Homo sapiens: one gene and its partner. The protein of the gene in region 1 purifies or fractionates together with the protein of each later gene. This does not show direct contact. Each region holds a gene or a part of one and is shown in the gene's direction. Other genes may lie near its edges.

What was found.
Region 2: the proteins of EML3 (region 1) and KLHL12 purify together in Homo sapiens (co-immunoprecipitation; one large-scale study listed by IntAct). This does not show direct contact.

The regions. Positions count from the first base shown.
Region 1 is NC_000011.10:62,606,241-62,609,893, reverse strand, and holds part of EML3 (echinoderm microtubule-associated protein-like 3), read left to right. Parts: intron 1-197; coding exon 198-265; intron 266-416; coding exon 417-540; intron 541-761; coding exon 762-932; intron 933-1,088; coding exon 1,089-1,158; intron 1,159-1,241; coding exon 1,242-1,352; intron 1,353-1,597; coding exon 1,598-1,693; intron 1,694-2,072; coding exon 2,073-2,228; intron 2,229-2,794; coding exon 2,795-2,936; intron 2,937-3,653. UniProt on the Homo sapiens protein: Regulates mitotic spindle assembly, microtubule (MT)-kinetochore attachment and chromosome separation via recruitment of HAUS augmin-like complex and TUBG1 to the existing MTs and promoting MT-based MT nucleation.
Region 2 is NC_000001.11:202,920,735-202,924,387, reverse strand, and holds part of KLHL12 (kelch-like protein 12), read left to right. Parts: intron 1-3,653. UniProt on the Homo sapiens protein: Substrate-specific adapter of a BCR (BTB-CUL3-RBX1) E3 ubiquitin ligase complex that acts as a negative regulator of Wnt signaling pathway and ER-Golgi transport.

The DNA.
Region 1 (3,653 bases):
CTTCAGCCTCAATCTTCTTATCTCTTAAATGGAACTAGAAGTCTCCATCTACTAGGGCCCTGATACTCACGAAGCAAACTACAGGCTTGCAGAAGTGACTGTGGTTTCTGCAGTGACCTCTTTTCTTGTGTCCTGCCCCTCCCCGCTTAGGTCTTGGGACCTGACCCCAATCCCTGTGCTTTCTCTCTTCCCAACAGCCGTGGGGGAAAAGACCCCCTCTCCAGCCCTGGGGGCCCTGGATCTCGGAGGAGCAATTACAATTTGGGTATGTAAAGAGGGACAGAGAGGAAAACTTGGATGGCAGGGTTAGGATTTGGGCTGTAGCCCCAGGAGCTATTTTGGGTAGGTGTGGTGGGTAGGGTTCTGCTCTGTCTTTCCTGGAAGGGGGTAGTTGACACCACCCCTTTTCTCTGTAGAAGGCATCTCAGTGAAGATGTTCCTTCGAGGGCGCCCCATTACCATGTACATCCCGTCTGGCATCCGCAGCCTTGAGGAGCTGCCGAGTGGCCCACCGCCAGAGACCCTCAGCCTTGACTGGGTGTATCCTGCCCCTTCCAGTCCCATGAGAACCACCTTTCTCACCTTGGGACCCCTCTTACCTTTACAGTTTCCTCCTGGGTCTGTGGGGACAAGGAGCCTTCTAGATCCTCTCCTACCATCATTCTGCTCTAGGCCCTGCCAGCCAGAAGCTCTGTCTTTCTCCCCTCTTCCTCCTCCTGCCCTTGATCTAACCCTTTCCTTGACCGTGATCTCCACCCCAGTTATGGGTACAGGGGTCGTGACTCCCGCTCTAATCTGTTTGTGTTGCGCTCTGGGGAGGTGGTCTACTTTATCGCCTGTGTGGTGGTGCTGTACCGGCCTGGAGGAGGCCCAGGGGGTCCTGGAGGTGGCGGCCAGAGACATTACCGGGGGCACACAGACTGCGTTCGATGGTGAGGAGTCCGGGGCTGGTGGGCTTGGCAGGAAGAGGGTCTGGGGGGATGGAGAAGCAGGAGAAAAGAGTTGCCTTGCTGCTCTGCAAGCTTGGAGAAGGTGTCTTGGATGGTCTTGAGAGACCCTTTCCCTAGAGTGTCTTCCCCCTGCCTTAGCCTTGCTGTTCACCCTGATGGTGTTCGGGTAGCCTCGGGACAGACAGCTGGAGTGGATAAGGATGGAAAGGTAAGGCCAAAGTCAGGGAGCAGGCAGACATGCTGGAATTGCACTCCAATTTTGCTTCACACTTGTGACTCTTCCTCCACCAGCCCCTGCAGCCTGTGGTTCACATCTGGGACTCAGAGACGCTGTTGAAACTGCAGGAGATTGGACTGGGGGCCTTCGAGCGGGGTGTTGGGGCCCTGGCCTTTTCAGCTGCGGTGAGCTGGCCCTGAAGCCTCTAGACCCCCATTCTTGCCTAGGAACCCCACTCTTGCATGTCACCAGGAAGCCTTGGAAGTTCTGGCCTTCCTGAACCCCACCCAGCTGGTTCTCTTGAGAAAGGGCCATGTGTGTCAACTTTTTCTGCCCTCTCCATCTGTGATGGTACCTCTTAACCTAATGACCATGAACCCCTGGACCTCCAGGGTTCACTCTGCACCTCCTATGTGTCACCCTTCTTCAGGATCAGGGTGCCTTTCTTTGTGTGGTGGATGATTCCAATGAGCACATGCTGTCGGTGTGGGACTGCAGCCGGGGAATGAAGCTGGCTGAGATCAAGGTGAGGAGTCCATGTGGCTTGGAGGGGCTCTGAGGTTGGGGGTGGGAGTGGTGGAGTGCAGGGAGCTCCAGACTCACCCATACATTTCCTTCCTTTTTGGCTGGGTCACATGGGGCAAATCTCCTAGCTTCTCTGACCCTTAGTTTCTTCATTTGTGACATGGGTTCTGACCTCATGAGGCATAATGTGTTAGGTATTAGGGTGATTAATTATGATTGACAGGAAATAGTGCTCTTAGGGGACCAGGGTTTTGAAAGAAGGGTTGTCCTGGGGTTTCTGGACCTCTGCCAGCCAGCTGTCATGATGCAAATTGAGGAGAGTCAAGTAGAATGAAGGTACCCAGGGCTTGGGGTGGCTGAATCTAGTGTCTTCCCTTCAGAGTACAAATGACTCAGTCCTGGCCGTTGGCTTCAACCCTCGTGACAGCAGCTGCATCGTCACCAGTGGGAAATCTCACGTCCACTTCTGGAATTGGAGTGGTGGAGTAGGGGTTCCTGGGAATGGGACCCTTACCCGGAAACAGGGTGTCTTTGGGGTGAGGCATGGATAAGTGGAAGGTGATGGGGAGGGCAGAGTGGAAGAGGAAGCACTGGGCTGAGTACTATGGACCCTGAGGTTCCCTAACCCCCACCTGCCCCTGTGACCTTTTTTTTTTTTTCTTTTGAGACGGAGTCTTGCTCTTGTCACCCAGGCCAGAGTGCAATGGCAAGATCTCGGCTCACTGCAACGTCTGCCTCCTGGGTTCGAGCAATTCTCCTGCCTCAGCCTCCCGGAGTAGCTGGGATTACAGATGCGCGCCGGCTGATTTTTGTATTTTTAATAGAGATACGGTTTCATCATGTTGGCCATCATGCCCGTTTTTTTTTTGTTTTTTTTGTTTTTGAGACAGTGCCTTGCTCTATCACCCAGGCTGGAGTGCAGTGCGGGATTTCACCATATTGGCCAGGCTGGTCACAAACTCCTGGCCTCAGGTGACCCGCCCGCCTTGGCCTCCCAAAGTGCTGGGATTACAGGCATGAGCCACTGCACCTGGCCTGCCCTGCGACTTTTAATCTTTGCCCTTCCCTTTGACCTCTACTGTCTGCTCTCCCCTCCCACTAGAAATACAAGAAACCCAAGTTTATCCCTTGCTTTGTGTTCCTTCCGGATGGAGACATTCTCACTGGAGACTCAGAGGGGAACATTCTCACCTGGGGGCGGAGCCCTTCAGATTCCAAGACCCCAGGCAGGGGTGGCGCCAAAGGTATGTGGCTGGGAGGGGCATCTGGGAAGTGTAGTACTCCAGAGGTTCTGTGGGAACAGAGGAGAGGGTTTCCCATTCCCATCTTTTTTTTTTTTTTTTTTGAGATGAGGTCTTACTCTGTTGCCCAGGCTGGATTGCAGTGGCGCGATCTTGGTTCACTGCAACCTCTGCCTTCCAGGTTCAAGTGATCCTCCTTCCTCAGTCTCCCAAGTAGCTGGAAGTACAGGCACACGCCACCACGCCCAGCTAATTTTTGTATTTTTAGTAGAGATGGGGTTTTGCCATGTTGGCCAGGCTGGTCTCGAATTCCTGACCTCAGGTGATCCGCCCGCCTTGGCCTCCCAAAGTGCTGGGATTACAGGCGTGAGCCACGGCGCCCAGCCAGGTTTCCCACCTTTTTACCTTGAGAGTTGATAGTTCTCTTGGGGGCTAGTCTAGAAGCGTGTGGGCAGCACAGCAAAGGAGAAACGGCTGGAGCTTTGTGTTTGCCAGATCTCAGGTTCAGATTCCAGTTTTGCTATTAGTTGCCTTGCCTTTAGGAAGTTACCTCATTTCTGTGAGTCTCAGTTGTCCTGTTTGTAAAATGGGGAGAATAACAGATGTGTTGGCAGTATGAGGATGAGACATAGTAGTCAGTGCATGCAATGGCTGGGAGTTCTTACTGTATTGCGACAGCCAAGCTGGCCCTGTTTCTCACTCCCCTGCACCCCCAAAACA
Region 2 (3,653 bases), on another chromosome or scaffold:
CCACATCCCACTCCTCCTAACAATATGTGAAGAAAATCAGTGTAAATTTTAGGATAACTTCAAATGAAAGGAAGAAGAGTTTTTAATGAATAGCTGTACAGGCGTTGAGTGTATAACCTGAGAAAGGATGTTAACTCATAAGCACTTAACAAAGGGAATTAGGAAAAGGTTGGCTTGAGAGAATACAGGTAGTGCTCACAAAGTATTAAGAAACACTACTTAGTAATTGCCTGACAAAATACTTGAAATGTATAGTAAGGCTGCTGAATATATTGTGTTGAATATTCTTAGAAAGCTGAACAGAAAATAACATTGCAAATCTTTGTTTTTCAAGATCCCAAGTCTCATTTTAAGAGCAGATTTAAATAAATTATCTTGATTTATTTTTTCAAAGCTCAGTTGTGGGTGCATCACTGTTTATTATATAATTTACACTTACATGTATGCCTGAAATATTTCATTATGAAAACACTGTTTTAAAAGTCTTTTTAAGCACAAGTTTTTTGTTTGTTTTTTGTTTTTTTTTTAGTTAGTTCTATCATCTTAGTGTAGATATTGCTGCTGAATCAGAATGGGAGAGGCGTATTCTGTGATGGTAATAACTACCTTTTATGGGCCAGGTACTGTGCTAGTAATTGTTGTGCATATCTGACTCACCCTAGGGGTAGGTATTACCATCTCATTTTACAAATGAAGGAATAGGGTTTCAGATATTAAATCACTTGCCCAAAGTCCCATGGCTTGTAAGTGCTAGAGGTGGGATTTCATTTTATATTTTCCAACTCTAAAGCCCAAACAGTTTGTAACTCTTGTGCCGCCTTAGCCTCCGAAGTATGAATTTTATATACTACAATCTAATTTTAAAACTGGTATAGTTAAAAATACTATGAGCCAATGCTCAGTCACATGGCTAGTAGGGAAAACAGGAACCTGACAGGTCATTCCAACTAATTCAGGCTAATTTTTAAATAAACTTGTGTGATATACCAAGGCAGATCCCTGTCCTATACTGTTCTCCATGAGATATACCCAAGATCATCAGAAGCATTTGGAATTTAACTGGGTAAAGAGAGTGTCACCCAGCAGCTGCTGAGCAAGAAATGAACTAGAACGGCTGATTGCTAATTATATGTTGTGCATCCTGTTTTTTGTCAGCTTGAAAATAGTGTCTTTACTCTTTTGTTATTTGGAAATGAATTCTTTTTTTCTCATCAGTGATGATTTCTTTCTTTAAAAACTGACATCAGGCAAGGAAATGCTAGATGGTTTTGTCTTTATTTTTGAGAGTAATTGTTCAAAGGAGAGAGTCCAGAGACCTGGATTCTAGGCTTAGTTCTCTTAGCAATTCTGTATAAACCCTGGGAACCATCTAACTTCACTGGGTTGATCTGTAAAATAAAGTAGTTGAACTAGATGGTTTCCTTGTTCTCTTCAGCTATGAAATGCTCCTCAAATGTCATCTGATTGAAAGATCACAAAGACTGAGGCAGGAGGACCTGGGTTTTGTCTCTCTCTCTCTCTCTTTTTTTTTTCCTGAAATACTTTAATAAGAATGATATCTGTCTCTTACTAGCTAAGTGACTGGTTAAGTCTTGGATCTTCAGCTGGGCGTGGTGGCTCACGCCTGTAATCCCAGCACTTTGGGAGGCCGAAGCAGGTGGATCACGAGGTCAGGAGATCAAGACCATCCTGGCTAACACGGTGAAACCCCGTCTCTACTAAAAATACAAAAAATTAGCCGTGCGTGGTGGCGGGCGCCTGTAGTCCCAGCCACTCGGGAGGCTGAGGCAGGAGAATGGCGTGAACCCGGGAGGCGGAGCTGGCAGTGAGCCCAGATCACGCCACTGCACTCCAGCCTGGGTGACAGAGCGAGACTCTGTCTCAAAAAAAAAAAAAAGTCTTGGATCTTCTTTGATCTTTAGACCCTTTATCGCTCTCTCTTTTTTTTTTTTTCCTTGACGCCTGGCTAATTTTTTGTATTTTTAGTGGAGACGGGGTTTCACCATGTTAGCCAGGATGGTCTCGATATCCTGACCTTGTGATCCACCCACCTCGGCCTCCCAAAGTGCTGGGATTACAGGCTTGAGCCATGTGCCCGGCCCCCCTTTATCTCTTAGATAGTAATAATATCAGACCTAACTACCTTACCAGGTTGCTGTGAGAATCAGATGAAATAGTAGTAAATGAGAAGCATGCTGAAAAATTCTAAAGCAAAATATAACTGTAAAATGTATAATTGCTCTAAGTTCTTACATAGTGAAATTGTTTCCATATTTAAACTATTTGATGGAAATGTAGTTTATTGAATGAGAAATTTCTGGAATACATGTACTTACATATTTCAGTACCATAATTATTAAATGCATTTAATGTGTTGGGATAGTAATTGTTTATGAATATTAGTACTGTATTAAATGTTAATAAAACCTAATATGTTTTTTCAAAATAATGTGCTAGTGACTTTTTTAGTGTTAGGGATTGATTTTGTTCTTGGCTTTGGTAGAGAGTGCTTTTTGGTTATTCTCTGGCTGATGGAGAAATAAAAAACGTTAAAGCCATTTAGTTAATAATGGAGATGCACCAGAGTTTTTTAAGTAAAATGAATTTCTAAACTAAGATTAAGATCTAGTAAAATTTTCATAAGGTATTTTCAGATAGTTTCCTGTAAAATTGAAGATTTCTTCTCTTAGCTAAACAGTTTTCTATGATTATCTGGCCTCATCAATACTCATAGCTTCAAGAAGATATACTACTAACAATTTAGACTAAATATACTGCTAACAATTCAGTTAGTCTAACCCAATATTTTGAAAAAGTAACAAATAATTTATTTGTATTCAGATGATGTTACATAAGAAAGTCCCTTAGGATGACCTGCATGTTCTTTTTCGTCATTACTAAATGCAGTCTAAGGGCCGGGCATGGTGGCTCACGCCTGTAATCCCAGCATTTTGAGAGGCTGAGGTGGGCAGATCACTTGAGGTCAGGAGTTCAAGACCAGCCTGGCCAACATGGTGAAACCCCATCTCTACTAAAAACACAAAAATTAGCCAGGCATGGTGGCATGTGCCTGTAGTCCCAGCTACTCAGGCGGCTGAGGCAGGAGAATCGCTTGAACCTGGGAGGTGGAGCTTGAAGTGAGCCAAGATTACGCCACTGCACTCCAGCCTGGGCAACAGAGCAAGACTGTGTCAAAAAAAAAAAAAAAAATTAGCTGGTTGTAGTGGTGTACTCCTGTAATCCCAGCTACTTGGGAGGCTGAGGCACGAGAAACACTTGAACCTGGGAGGCAGAGGTTGCAGTGAGCTGAGATCACACCACTGCACTCCAGCCTGGGGAACAGAGCAAGACCCTATCTCAACAAAGGGGAAAAAAAAGTAGTCTAAGGACAGATGATAGGAACTAGGTAGTCCTGGAGAGACTGGAGTTATAACCCACAGGCTCCTCTACGAACATGAAATTTCTTTGAAATATTGTGTCTTATCTTAAAAGTTCACGGACCAGTGTTATGTTCATGGAACTTTTGCATTCTATTCTGTAAATACATCTGTATTTTAATATGAAATAGATTTTTAAAGTTATTCACTGGCAAAATTACTATTCCAGGAAGGTGTTACCTATTACTTATTCCTGGCGTATAGATAACTACCTAC